Regions from separate parts of the Homo sapiens genome. Here regions 2 and 3 are each linked to region 1. The links come from fine-mapping of genetic effects on gene expression. A gene starts in region 1. Each other region holds a variant in brackets. All regions are shown on one strand. Distances are between the middles of the regions. Region 1 holds the start of HNRNPUL1 (heterogeneous nuclear ribonucleoprotein U like 1). Region 2 overlaps AXL (AXL receptor tyrosine kinase). Region 3 overlaps TGFB1 (transforming growth factor beta 1).

Evidence for each region. PIP is the estimated chance that this variant, and not a neighbour inherited with it, causes the effect. A credible set is the group of variants that fine-mapping cannot tell apart.
Region 2: its variant is the best candidate, but not a certain one, in a credible set for the expression of HNRNPUL1 in whole blood (TOPMed, PIP 0.63).
Region 3: its variant is the best candidate, but not a certain one, in a credible set for the expression of HNRNPUL1 in fibroblasts (GTEx, PIP 0.52).

The regions. Positions count from the first base shown.
Region 1 is chr19:41,262,601-41,266,783 of GRCh38, reverse strand. HNRNPUL1 (heterogeneous nuclear ribonucleoprotein U like 1) reads right to left here and starts at 2,412. Exons shown (of 15, transcript NM_007040.6): 1 at 1,986-2,412. The coding sequence starts at 2,280. RefSeq lists silencers at 1,887-1,936, 1,957-2,026, 2,117-2,356 and enhancers at 2,362-2,900, 2,901-3,440, 3,441-3,980.
Region 2 is chr19:41,224,919-41,229,051 of GRCh38, reverse strand. The region is part of intron 4 of AXL (AXL receptor tyrosine kinase); the gene reads right to left. Among named protein-coding and RNA genes, the nearest start is that of AXL, 7.8 kb to the right of the region's middle. RefSeq lists an enhancer at 3,866-4,133. The variant T/C (reference allele first, on the strand shown) is at 1,602.
Region 3 is chr19:41,337,098-41,341,280 of GRCh38, reverse strand. All of the region lies in intron 5 of TGFB1 (transforming growth factor beta 1), which reads left to right. Among named protein-coding and RNA genes, the nearest start is that of TGFB1, 15 kb to the left of the region's middle. The variant G/A (reference allele first, on the strand shown) is at 1,731.

The DNA of each region.
Region 1 (4,183 bases):
AACAAGTATCCAATTCCAACCCCAAATCCTGTCTCTTCTGTTACCTCATTTCTCTCCTTATCCCCTTAGCCCCAAGTCCCAGGGTGCCCTCTTTTCAGAAAAACTCCACAAACTCTTACGCCAGAATCCCTTCTACTTACTCCTTAACCTTTCCAGTCCCCCCATTTCCCAGTCCTACTAGAAAGCTGCCCTGAGGCCTGGTGCAGTGATTCACGCCTGTAATCCCAGCACTTCAGGAGGCCGAGGTGAGATCACCTGAACCCAGGAGTTCAAGACCACCCTGGGCAACATAGCGAGACCCCCCATCTGTATTTAAAAAAAAGAGAAAGAAAGCTGCTTTTTTCTTTTTTGAGACGGAGTTTCACTTTTGTTGCCCAGGCTGGAGTGCAATGGCGTAATCTCGGCTGACTGCAACCTCCCCCTCCCAAGTTCAAGCGATTCTCCTGCCTCAGCCTCCCGAGTAGCTGGGACTACAGGCGCACACCACCAGATCCGGTTAATATTTGTATTTTTAGTAGAGACAGGGTTTCACTATGCTGGCCAGACTGGTCTTGAACTCCTGACCTCGTGATCCGCCCGCCTCGGCCTCCCAAAGTGCTGGAATAACAGGCGTGAGCCACTGCACTCGGCCCGAAAGCTGCTTTTTTTCTAACTGAAGATTCACGCCGTCCCATATCAGGTTTTCCTCTCCTCAGACAACCGCAGGTCTACCCGAACCCATTCCCAGAGTCACAGCTCCTGGCTGATGAAGAGTTCCGTGCTGCTCCCCGAGGGCCCCCACTCCCTGGGTACACAAATAACTGCTTCTGGGAACCGTCGAGATTTCTCCTGGAGACGCTCAGGTCCAGAAACATTCCCCACACTCCACTCTGAGGCCTCCAGTGAAGTCAACAGGTTTCTTTCTCTTTGCTCCCTACGGCCTCCCCCCTCCCCATATTCGCTAAGCCAGATACGTACTCCTGTGCTGGACACAGGATCCTCTGTCTCCCGCCACATATTTCATCCACTTGGAATGTTACCAACTCATCTGCCCCCATCCCACCCCCAGCTACCCTCTGTTCTCCAAAAACCCCACAGTTAGCTCCAGACCAGTCAGCAGCAGCCTCAAGAGTTATTTGCCCTCAGTTTTCTTAGCTCTAGACCCCCAGATCCTTTGTCCAGGAAAGCATCCTCTCCCCCGCCAGCCTCTGGACACCAGGGCTCCCTATACCTCTTCTAGAAGCCAACCAGAAAGTCCCCAGATCTCCCAGCACCTAATGTCCAGGCTGTGCCTGCTTCAAGGGTGGCCTTCCAGCCCCGGAAGAGAGATGGGGGTGCCCCCTAGTTCAATCTCCCGCAGCCCCTAAATGCTCACTAGCCAAACTCCAAAGCACTGAGTCCATTAGGACCCTCCCCAGCCACAGACACCAGCGCCTCCACCTCTCCCACCCACCCCCGTACCCAAATAGGAGAACGCCCAGGATCGCATCCAGCGGCATATTCCAGGATCCTCCTTCCTCAGAACTCTCGCAGCCCCGCACACCTGGACATTCCTTCCCCACCCTGGAAACACGGCTCCCCACCCCCCAGCCCACACGCTGGGCTAGCACGACCGCCAAGCCCACGGAGCTCCGTACCCTAGGATCCCCATTTTCGAGACCCTCCCCAACCCAAACGGAAAACCTCTTGTTCTTCCGACTCTCTTCGGCTCCAGAAAGCAGTTTCCGGTCTCCGATCCCTACGGTACGGAATCCTCCCCGCCACCCCCGTCCCTCACCTCCGAAACCCAGAGGCCCCTCCCCCAGTGTCCCCCCTGCACTGAGTGTCAGGATCCACCCTCCGGTCGTGCTGGGGCCCTGGTCCCCAGATCCTTTTCGGCGGCGGGTAGCGGGATCCCCCGATCCTCAGGTCGTCTCCCCGACCTCAGGCGCTGGACTCCCGCGTCCCACAGCCCTTTCCTCGGCCCAGGCTCCGGGCTCCCCGGCCCCCGCCCCGCGCACTCTCACAATGTCCGTCCGGCCCCGAGTAGCCGCCGGGCTCCGCGTGCGGCTGCAGCCCGGGCGGCGGTGGCTGCGCGGTCCCCTCCAGCTCGGAGCCCCCCTCGGTCTCGACCTCCTCGTTGATGTGCCCGGGTCGCCCCGGTTCGTCGTCGGCGTCGAGCTCCCGCTCGTCGTCAGGCTCCTCGGCCTCCAACGCCGCCTGCAGCCGCTCAGCAAGCTCGGCCTTGAGGCCTCGAGTGTCCAGGCCGCGGCGCTGCAGCTCCTCGCGAAGTTCGTTCACCTTCAGACGGCGCACATCCATGGCCCGGGCCCCCGGGGTGGCCCCCGAGCCCGGCCCGGCCTCCCAGGGCTCTGTCCCCCTTAAACCTTTCCTGTCAGGAGGCGAAGGGGGAAAGGGGGGGGGCCCACTCCAATGGCGGCAGCGGCTCAAAATGGCCGCCGCCACCGCCTCCCCCCTCACTCGTGCCTCGTCCGATGTTACATGAGTGCCAATTGGTCAGTGCGTGGGGCAACGGGCGCGGGCCCGGAAACCTAGCCAATCAGAGCGCCGTTTTCAAAACAACGGCCACGAGAAGGCCTAGGAGCTACTGGGGAGGAAGCGTTGGCCTACGTCGAAGCCGAGGCCGGAGCGGAGGGCGGGAAAAGGCAGGAGGCGGAGCGCTTGCTGATTGGGTAACTCTCGCGCGCCGGCTGCCGTAAGGTCCAATGAAAATAAGGGAGTAACAATTTGGTCCAATCAACGGTAAGATCTCAGAATGAGTGTCCCACGGCCTTTCCTGCGCAGTCCTTTCATCAAACTAAGTGTCTCTGTAACACACATTCCGATTGGTGTACATCTCCCGCCCCTTGAGGAGTCCGAGCGGGTAAAACCACTAGAACCAATCAAATGGAGGGTCGGCAGAAACCCCTCCTTCCTGTTGCCTTTAAGAAACCGGAAAGAGATGAATTCACCAGGAGCCCGCCCCTTGCCGTTAGGGCGGTTTCAAAACAATCTGCCCACCAATCGCAGTTATTGTCTTAGCTCACTAAAGCTGGTAGCGATGGCTCATTTTAGGAAAAGTTCACCAGATTGGCCGTGCTTCAGAGGACTGCCTCACAAATTTCGCTGTAGGAGGAGGTATACGAAATAGAGATTAAGTGGATACACAGTTCGTAATCTGGAAGGAACCCAGTTGCCTTTAGGAAAAGCAAAATTTTGAGTTGAGAGAGTCCCGAAGGTTTGGCTATAGAAACTAGACTAACAACGGGAGGCAAGTTGTAAAGGACACGGCCTCCCCTTCCCTTGGGTAGTCCGCGGCCGCCTTGCTCTATGGTCGGGTACCTGACGTGGAACGGGCGCTCTGCACGCGACCATAGAGCCTTCCCCTCCCGAAAGACATCCAGAAGTTCACCGACCGCTCTCCCGAATCCTCTAATCGGCTGTTCCCGTAAATCGGGCTGTCTGGCGTCTGTACCGACAAGCTCAACCCCACGGATCCGTCATTAACCTTCGCGCTCAGGAATACAAAAGCCACAGAGCTTCCCAGTGTCTAACGCTGCACCACCTGTCGCCTCTAACTCAAAACAAAACTCGAGTAAGACGCAATCGGGATACATGATGCAGACTCCCACTGCCTCCTGAGCCACACGTTAAGCCCGCAAAAGCCACACACTATCTCTACTCAGACAAAGGCACACCCCGCAGTCGTAAACAAACAGGCGTGCGTCAGATCAGACGCATCCAGTTCTTTTTTTTGTTGTTCTTTTTTTTTTTTTTTTTTTTTTGAGACGGAGTCTCGCTCTTGTTACCCTGGCTGGAGTGCAGGGCCTCTATCTCAGCTCACCGCAACCTCCGCCTCCCGTGTTCAAGCGATTCTCCTGCCTCAGCCTTCCGAGTAGCTGGGATTACAGGTCCCCGCCACCATGCCCGACTAATTTTTGTATTTTTAGTAGAGACGGGGTTTCACCATGTTGGCCAGGCTGGTCTCGAACTCCTGACCTCAAGTGATCCGCCCGCCTCGGCCTCCCAAAGTGCTGGGATTACAGGCGTGAGCCACCGCGCCCGGCCCCAATTCCGATCTGCTTTGGGTAAGGCACCCCGCTGCAGTGTAGATGTGCCCACTACGGTCCGCAGAGGCAGGCGGCATCGAATAATAAAGATAACACAGGATAGTTGCACTACAAGCGAACACTACAGCAACCCAAACACACAGCACCCACTCAGC
Region 2 (4,133 bases), 38 kb after region 1:
CTTGAACCCGGGAGGCAGAGGCTGCAGTGAGCTGAGATCACGCCATTGCACTCCAGCCTGGGCAACAAGAGTGAAACTCTGTCTCAAAAAAAAAAGAAAGAAAAGAAAAGACAAAGAAAGAAAGAAAAAATACAATAAAATTGGAGCTAATTGGAGCTTCCTCTCCAAATCTATCCCCTTCCCGCTTTACTTTTCCTCTTTGGTTCTTCTCATCACCCAACATACTTTACCTGTTACCCAAGTACCTTGCCCATTGTCAGTTTCTCCCACTAGAATGTCAGCTCTAGGAGGGCAGGGGTTGTGTCTGTTTCGTCCCCTGCTGTGTCAGGATGGCCTGGCACACAATAGGTGTGCCATAAATGCTTGTTGAATGAGTGAGTGAAATTGTGTTCAGCTATGTACTTATGAGCATTCCTGGGCATAGGTGTAGAAATATGAGCATGTGTAATTCCATAGGGGAGTTCACGTATTGTGTCTTGACTGTTTTTTTCTTTTGTTTTTTGAGAGTCTTGCTCTGTTGCCCAGGCTAAAGTGCAGTGGCATGATCTTGGCTCACTGCAACCTCTGCCTCCTGGGTTCAAGCCATTCTCCTGCCTCAGCCTTCTGAGTAGCTGGGATTACAGGAGCGCGCCACCATGCCCGGCTAATTTTTGTAATTTTTAGTAGAGATAGGGTTTCACCATGTTGGCCAGGCTGGTCTCGAACTCCTGACCTCAAGTGATCTGCCCATCTCAGCCTCCCAAAGTGCTGGGATCACAGGTGTGAGCCACCGTGCCCGGCCTTGAGTAACTGTTTTCGAGTGAAGGTGGATTGCCTTCCCTCCCTAACGTGGTGGTGTTGGTGTTGGTATGACCAGCGTGCACACACAGAAGCACGTACAATTACAGAGACAAACACGAGAGACACAGACCTGCAAGCACACAGAGATACCCAACACAAACCGCTATACAACGTACATCAGTCCCCCTTTATCCGAGGTTTCACTTTTTGAGGTTTCAGTTACACTTGGTCTAAAAATATTTCAATGGAAAATTCCAGATATAACTCCTAAGTTTTAAATTGCATGCCGTTCTGAGTACTGTGATGAAACCTCATGCCATCCCACTCTGGTTGGCCTAGAACGTGAATCCCCCCTTTGTCCAGCATCTCAGTGCTGTATCTGATACCTGTCTGTAAGTCACTTAGCTATCAGATCAACTGTCCTGGTACTGCAGTGCTCAAGTGCAGAGTTCAAGAAACTCTTATTTATCTAAATAATCGCCTGGCCGGGTGCTATGGCTCACATCTGTAATCCCAGCACTTTGGGAGGCCGAGGCGGGTGGATCACTTGAGATTAGGAGTTTAAGACAAGCCTGGGCAACACAGTGAAACCCCCGTCTCTACTAAAAATACAAAAAAATCAGCCGGGCATGGTGGCGCGTGCCTGTAATCCCAGCTACTCGGGAGGCTGAGGCACGATAACTGCTAGAACCCGGGCTGCGGAGGTTGCAGTGAGCCAAGGTCGCCACACTGCACTCCAGCCTGGGCGACAGAGAGAGACTCTGTCTAAAAAAAAAAAAAAAAGGCCCCAGGGTGCAAAATAGTGATGGCTGCAATTCGGA[T/C]AGGCCAAAGAGAAGCCTTAAAGTGCTTCCTTTTAAGTGAAAAGGTGAAAATTCTCCACTTAGAAAAAGATAATCATATATATATGTACTGAGGTTGCTAAGATCTATAGTAAGAAAACAATCTATCTGCGAAATTGTGAAGGAAAAAGAAAGTTATGTGTAGTATATACAGGGTTTAGTATTATTCATTGTTTCAGGCTTTTGTGGGGGCTCTTAGAGAACGTATCCTGGTGAATAAGGGGAATCCCCCAACACAGATACACGTAGAAACATAGACACCCCCCTCCCCCAGCACACACACACAATGTCTGCGCTAGGATGTAAGAAGGACCAAGTTTTTCGTTTTGTTTTTTGAGACAGGTTCTTGCTCTATCTCCCAGGCTGCAGTACAGTGGCACAATCACGGCTCACTGCTGCCTTGACCTCCAGGGCTCAAGCGATCCTCCTGTCTCATCCTCCCAAGCAGCTGGGACTACAGGCGGCCACCACACTTGGCTAACTTTTCAATTTTTTTTTGTAGAGAAGAGGAGAGTCTCACCACGTTGCCCAGGCTGCTCTCAAACTTCTGGCCCCAAGCGATCCTCCCGCCTCGGCCTCCCAAAGTGCTGGATCGCAGGCAGAGCCACTCGGTGCCCGGCCCTGGGACCAAGTCTTGTAAGTGCGACTGCAGTTCTGCGTGTTGTTTACGCGTGTGCTTGTGCATCTGTGTTTGTGTTTCTGAGCTGGTATGTTTGTGACCCTGCGTGTATCTGTGGATGGTGTGTACGTGCATGTGTTGAGTATCTGTGTACGTGTCTCTCGTGTTTGCTCCGTGCGTGTACGCCTCTGTTCCCACCGCGTTGGCAAGGGAGGCTCTCCATCCGCAGACACAAAGTTTCCTTTTCTCCGTCAGCGGAGGGAGTGGAATGGTGCAAAGTCTGCAGAGGCCGGAAAGGGGAGGGTAGGGGAGCTCCTCAGTCGCGGCTTCCTAGGTGGCCGTTCCCAGACAAGGTCAGGTGCCCGCTCCCGCAGCCTCCGCGCCCTGAAGGCCCCGCGCCCGCAGCCCCCGCGCCGCCCGGAGGAGAAACAGTACAGTCCCGGGCGGGCGGCCCGAGTGGGGGCGGGGAGCCTGGGTCGGGTCCAGCCACCTGGCACGTGGGGCCCCGCCAGGGTCAGCGCGCGGGAGCTGGCGCCGCCGGCCGGAGAAGCCCTGGGGCTGGAGGTGGGTTCTGGAGCCGGGTCCCGTTCCGACCGCAGCATTCCTGCCCCCGCGTGAGTCACCGGGGGCACCTCCCCACCCCAGCGCTTCCGGCCGGCTTCGGGGGCGCGGAGCCAGAGCCGGGATCCCCCTTCCCAGGCCCCAACGGCCGCACCTTGAGTGAAGGGGACAGGAGGAACTGGGACCCCTTCCCCTCCAGAAGGTTCTTGCTTTACCGCAAGACGACAGGAGCAGGCCGATTCCAGATGTGCTTTCCAGATGTCCTGACCATCCCCCCACAACCCCTGCTCTCCGCCCCAGCTTTTCCAGAGAATGAGAGGGATGGAAGGAGGAGGGGCACGCCCTGAGTCAGATAGAGGGACAGACGCACACAAACGGACGAAATTCCTTCACACAGCAAACCCCCCCACACACACACTCACAATGAATCACACTTAAACACACAGGGGCTGTTATTAGCACAGAAGACGCAGCGCTTGGTAAGTTAACGGCACACAGATATGCAAGGGCTGATGTCACAAACACAGTGACACAAAAACACCGTGACTCACACATATACACGCGGGCTGACACTGATGTACATTCATAAAGAGACATGTATGCATACAAGCCAACGTGGGACAAACACATAAACACACAGTCACACATGTACACATTGATTACAAACACCTAGCGACGCAATGTACATCTAGGCTGATGCCAACACACACAGAAACTTAAATGTCCCTGTATATTCAGAGACACACACCACGTAACAGCGTACATGGAGTTGAGGTGGACAGATAGATACACACCAGGACACAATGAAGGGTCATTTTGACCTGCTCAGACACAGACACACCGACGCGTACACCTCACAGCCAAGCCTCCATCTACGCCATAAGATGGAGCTGGATGCGCCCAGGTTTCATGTTCACCCAGACACAGACTGATACAAAAACACATTTGCGCTGGGTGCGGTGGCTCACGCCTGTAATCCCAGTACTTTGGGAGGCCGAGGCCGGTGGATCACTTGAGGTCAGGAGTTTGAGACCAGCCTGGCCAACATGACAAACCTGTCATGAAACCCTGTCTTTACTAAAAATACAAAAATAAGCCAGGCGTGCCTGTAATCGCAGCTCCTCAGGAGGCTGAGGCAGGAGAATCCCTTGAACCCCGGAGGCGGAAGTTACAGTAAGCCAAGATCGTGCCACTGCACTCCAGCTTGGGTGACAGAGTGAGACTCCGTCTCAAAACAAAAACCCCAAAAAACAAAAAAACACAGTTTCGTAGATGCGCAGGCCTGATGCAGACACACAAGGATGGAGACACTGCCATGGACACATAGATTGACA
Region 3 (4,183 bases), 74 kb before region 1:
GTTAGCCAGGATGGTCTCCATCTCCTGACCTCGTGATACACCCACCTCAGCCTCCCAAAGTGCTGGGATTACAGGCGTGAGCCAACGCGCCCGGCCTAATTTTTTGTATCTTTAGTAGAGACTGGGTTTCACCATGTTAGCCAGGATGGTCTTGATCTCCTGACCTCGTGATCCGCCTGCCTCAGCCTCCCGAAGTGCTGGGATTACAGGTGTGAGCCACCACGCCCAGCCTTGCTTTCTTGCTGGAGTGTTGGAATCACAGAATGTTAGAAAGTTGAACCCTGTGATTGTTGGAATTCAAAGTTGGAAGGTCACCATCTTGAATCCCTAAATTGTTGGCAGGTTGAGGTTCTAGAATGCTGGGATTCTAGAATGCTAGAATTTGGTGTTAATTACTGAAATGGAAAATGTCGGACTCAAGGAAAGCTGAAACATTGGAATCCTAGAATTTGGGGATTCAAAATGGGAAGATGGCCCATGTGGAATTCCTGCACCACTGGCCAATTGTGGATACCAGTGTTGGCAGATTGGAGTCCTTGAATATTGGGCTCACAGTGGTAGAATTCTGTTTTGAAATATTCACATCCACAAATGTTGGAGTTGGAGAAAGCAGAATATTGGTATCTCAGCATGTTGGAACTCAGTGTTGGAATGTTAGAATATTAGAATGCTGGGATTTTATTAATAGAAAGTGGCAGCAGGCTGGGCGCGGTGGCTCACGCCTATAATTCCAGCACTTTGGGAGGCTGAGGTGGGCGGATCCCTGAGGTCTGGAGTTCAAGACCAGCCTGGCCAACATGGTGAAACCCCATCTCTATTAAAAATACAAAAATTAGCCAGGTGTGGTGGCTGGCACCTGTAATCCCAGCTACTCGGCTGGGATTACGGCTATCCAGGTACCCAGGCTGGGGCAGGAGAATCACTGGAACCTCGGGGGTGGAGGTTGCAGTGAACCGAGATCGCGCCACTGCACTCCGGCCTGGGCAATGATGCGAGACTCCATCTAAAAAAAAAAAAAAAAAAAAAAAAGAAAGAAAGTGTCAGTTTGAACCTCTTGAGTGATGGCTCAGAACTTTGGAATGTTGGGATGCAATACTGGCATACTGGAATTCAGGAATGCCAAGATCCTCAAAGGTTGGAAAGGGGGAATCCTAGAGAGTTGAAGATGCTGTCAGAATGTTAGAATCATAAGATGCTGGAATGCTAATACTGCAATCTAAGAAAGCTGAAATGTTGGATTCCTAGAAAGTTGAAATGGAGAGTTAGAATGTTGTAAATTTAGAGTGATCATCTGACCTTATTCCTCCCTTGCTTAAAATATTTTGGTCCTGTCTCTGGGCTTTGTTACCGGCTGTTTCCCTGCCAGAAAATCAGCCCTGCTCCCAGGCTCCTTCACCACCAGATCTTAGCGCCATCAGCCCAGCAACGCTGTCAATGAACAAATTGAGGTCTTTTTTGAGACAGAGTCTCGCTCTGTTGCCCAGGCTGGAGTGCAGTGGCGTGATCTCGGCTCACTGCAACCTCCGCCTCCCAGGTTCAAGTGATTCTCCTGCCTCAGCCTCCTGAGTAGCTGGGATTACAGGCGTGTGCCACCACACCCGGCTAATTTTTGGTTTTTTTAGTAGACACTGGGTTTCACCATGTTGGTCAGGCTGGTCTCGAACTCCTGACCTCGTGATCCACCCGCCTCGGCCTCCCAAAGTGCTGGGATTACAGGCATGAACCACTGC[G/A]CCCGGCCACAAATTGAGGTCTTGAGTGCCAACAGCTCCTGACATTACAAAGGGAGATAGCCAGCCATGTCAGCCTCCGTAGGGAGGGACCCAATGTTGCCTAGGAAGTCTTGGCAAAAAATCAAACCTGAAGGCCAGGTGCGGTGGCTCATGCCTGTAATCCCAGCACTTTGGGAGGCCAAGGCAGGCAGATCGCTTGAGCTTAGGAGTTCAAGACCAGCTTGTGCAACATGTTAAAACCCTGCCTCTGTACAAGAAATACAAAAAAACTAGCTGGCTGGGTGGTGTGTGCCTGTAGTCCCAGCTACTTGGGAGGCTGAGGCAGGAGTGCTTGAGCCTAGGAGGTTGTGGCTGCAGTCAGCCAGGATCACGCCACTGCATTTCAGGACAGAGCAGGACCTTGTCTCAGGAAAAAAAAAAAAAAATCAAACCTGAATCTGATCAGGACTGTAGATCCTAACAGTTTTCTAGAAAGACAGGAACAGAGGAAATGGTCAGCAAAACTCAGACTGCAAGAAACCTCACCCAGTTTCTTCATCAAATACAATGCAAAGAAGGGGAAAGCACACACACACACACACGTACCCCCCATGCAACCAAAAATTCACATACAAGTTTTGACTCCCCAAAAACTTAACTATTAATAGCCTACTGTGGACTGGAATTCTGCTTTATCCACAACATAAACAGTTGATTAATACTTTTTTTTTTTTTTGGAGACAGAGTCTCTGTCATTCAGGCTGGAGTGCAGTGGTGCGGTCTCGGCTCACTGCAGCTTCTGCCTCCCGGGTTCAAGTGATTCTCTTGCTTCAGCCTCCCGAGTAGCTGGGACCACAGGTGCCCACCGCCACGCCCAGCTAATTTTTTGTATTTTAGTAGAGATGGGGTTTCACCGTATTGCCCAGGCTGGTCTTGAACTCCTGAGGTCAGGCAATCCGCCCACCTCAGCCTCCCAAAGTGCTAGGATTACAGGCATGAGCCACTGCTCCCGGCCGAATAATACATATTTTGCATGTTTTATGTATTATGTCCTATATCCCCTTTTTTTTTTTTTGAGACGGAGTTTCGCTGTTGTCACTCAGGCTGGAGTGTAATGGCACAATCTCAGCTCACGGCAACCTCCACCTCCCGGGGGTTCAAGCAATTCTCCTGCTTCAGCCTCCTGAGTAGTTGGGATTATAGGCACCTGCCACCATGCCCGGCTAACTTTTGTATTTTTAGTAGAGGTGGGGTTTCACCATGTTGGCCAGGCTGGTCTTGAACTCCTGACCTCAAGTGATCTACCCGCCTCAGCCTCCCAAAGTGCTGGGATTGCAGGGGTGAGCCACGCACCCGGCCGTATTCTTTGTTTTTTTTTTTGAGACAGAGTCTAGCTGTGTCACCCAGGCTGGAGTGCAGTGAAGTGATCTCAGCTCACTGCAACCTCCGCCTCCCAGGTTCAAGCAATTCTCCTGCCTCAGTCTCCCAAATAGCTGTGATTTCAGGCATCCGCCATCGCACCCGGGTAATTTTTGTATTTTTAGTAGAGACGGGGTTTCACCATGTTGGCCAGGCTGGTCTTGAACTCCTGACCTCAGGTGATCCATCAGCCTCGGCCTCCCAAAGTGCTGGCCTTACAGGCTTGAACCACTGCTCCCGGCCTATGCCTGCATTTTAAAAATAAGATAGAGAAAAGAAAATGTCCTTAAGAAAATCATAAGGAAGAGGAAGTATATTTTCCATTCATTGAGTGGAAGTGGCTTATCATAAAGGTCTTCATGTTGAGTAGGCTGAGGAGGAGGAAGAAAAGGTGTTGGTCTTGCTGTCTCAGGGCAGAGGTGGAAGAAAAATTCACCTGTAAGTGGTGAATTTTGTAAGAGGACCCATGTAGTTCAAACCCATGTCCAAGGGTCAGTCTATATATAGTTGACCCTGAATATATATACAGAGAGAGAGAGAGATGATTTTGTAGATTTTGAAAAAAGTCCTAAGAGAGGCCAGGTATGGTAGCTCACACCCGTAATCCCAGCACTTTGGGAGGCTGAGGCAGGTGGATCACTTGAGGTCAGGAGTTGGAGACCAGCCTGGCCAACATGGTGAAACCCTGTCTGTACTAAAAATACAAAAATCAGGCCAGCTGTCGTGGCTCACACCTGTAATCCCAGCACTTTGGGAGGCCAAGGTGGGTGGACCACCTGAGGTCAGGAGTTCGAGACCAGTCTGGCCAACGTGGTGAAACCTCCTCTCTACTAAAAATTCAAAAATGAGCCAGGCGTGGTGGCGGGCCCTGTAATCCCAGCTACTCTTGAGGCTGAGGCAGGAGAACTGCTTGAACCCAGGAAGTGGAGGTTGCAGTGAGCCGAGGTCGCGCCATTGCACTCCAGCCTGGGCAACAAGAGTGAGACTCCCGTCTCAAAAAAATAAATAAATAATTAAAAATACAAAAATTAGCAGGGTATGGTGGCAGGCGCCTG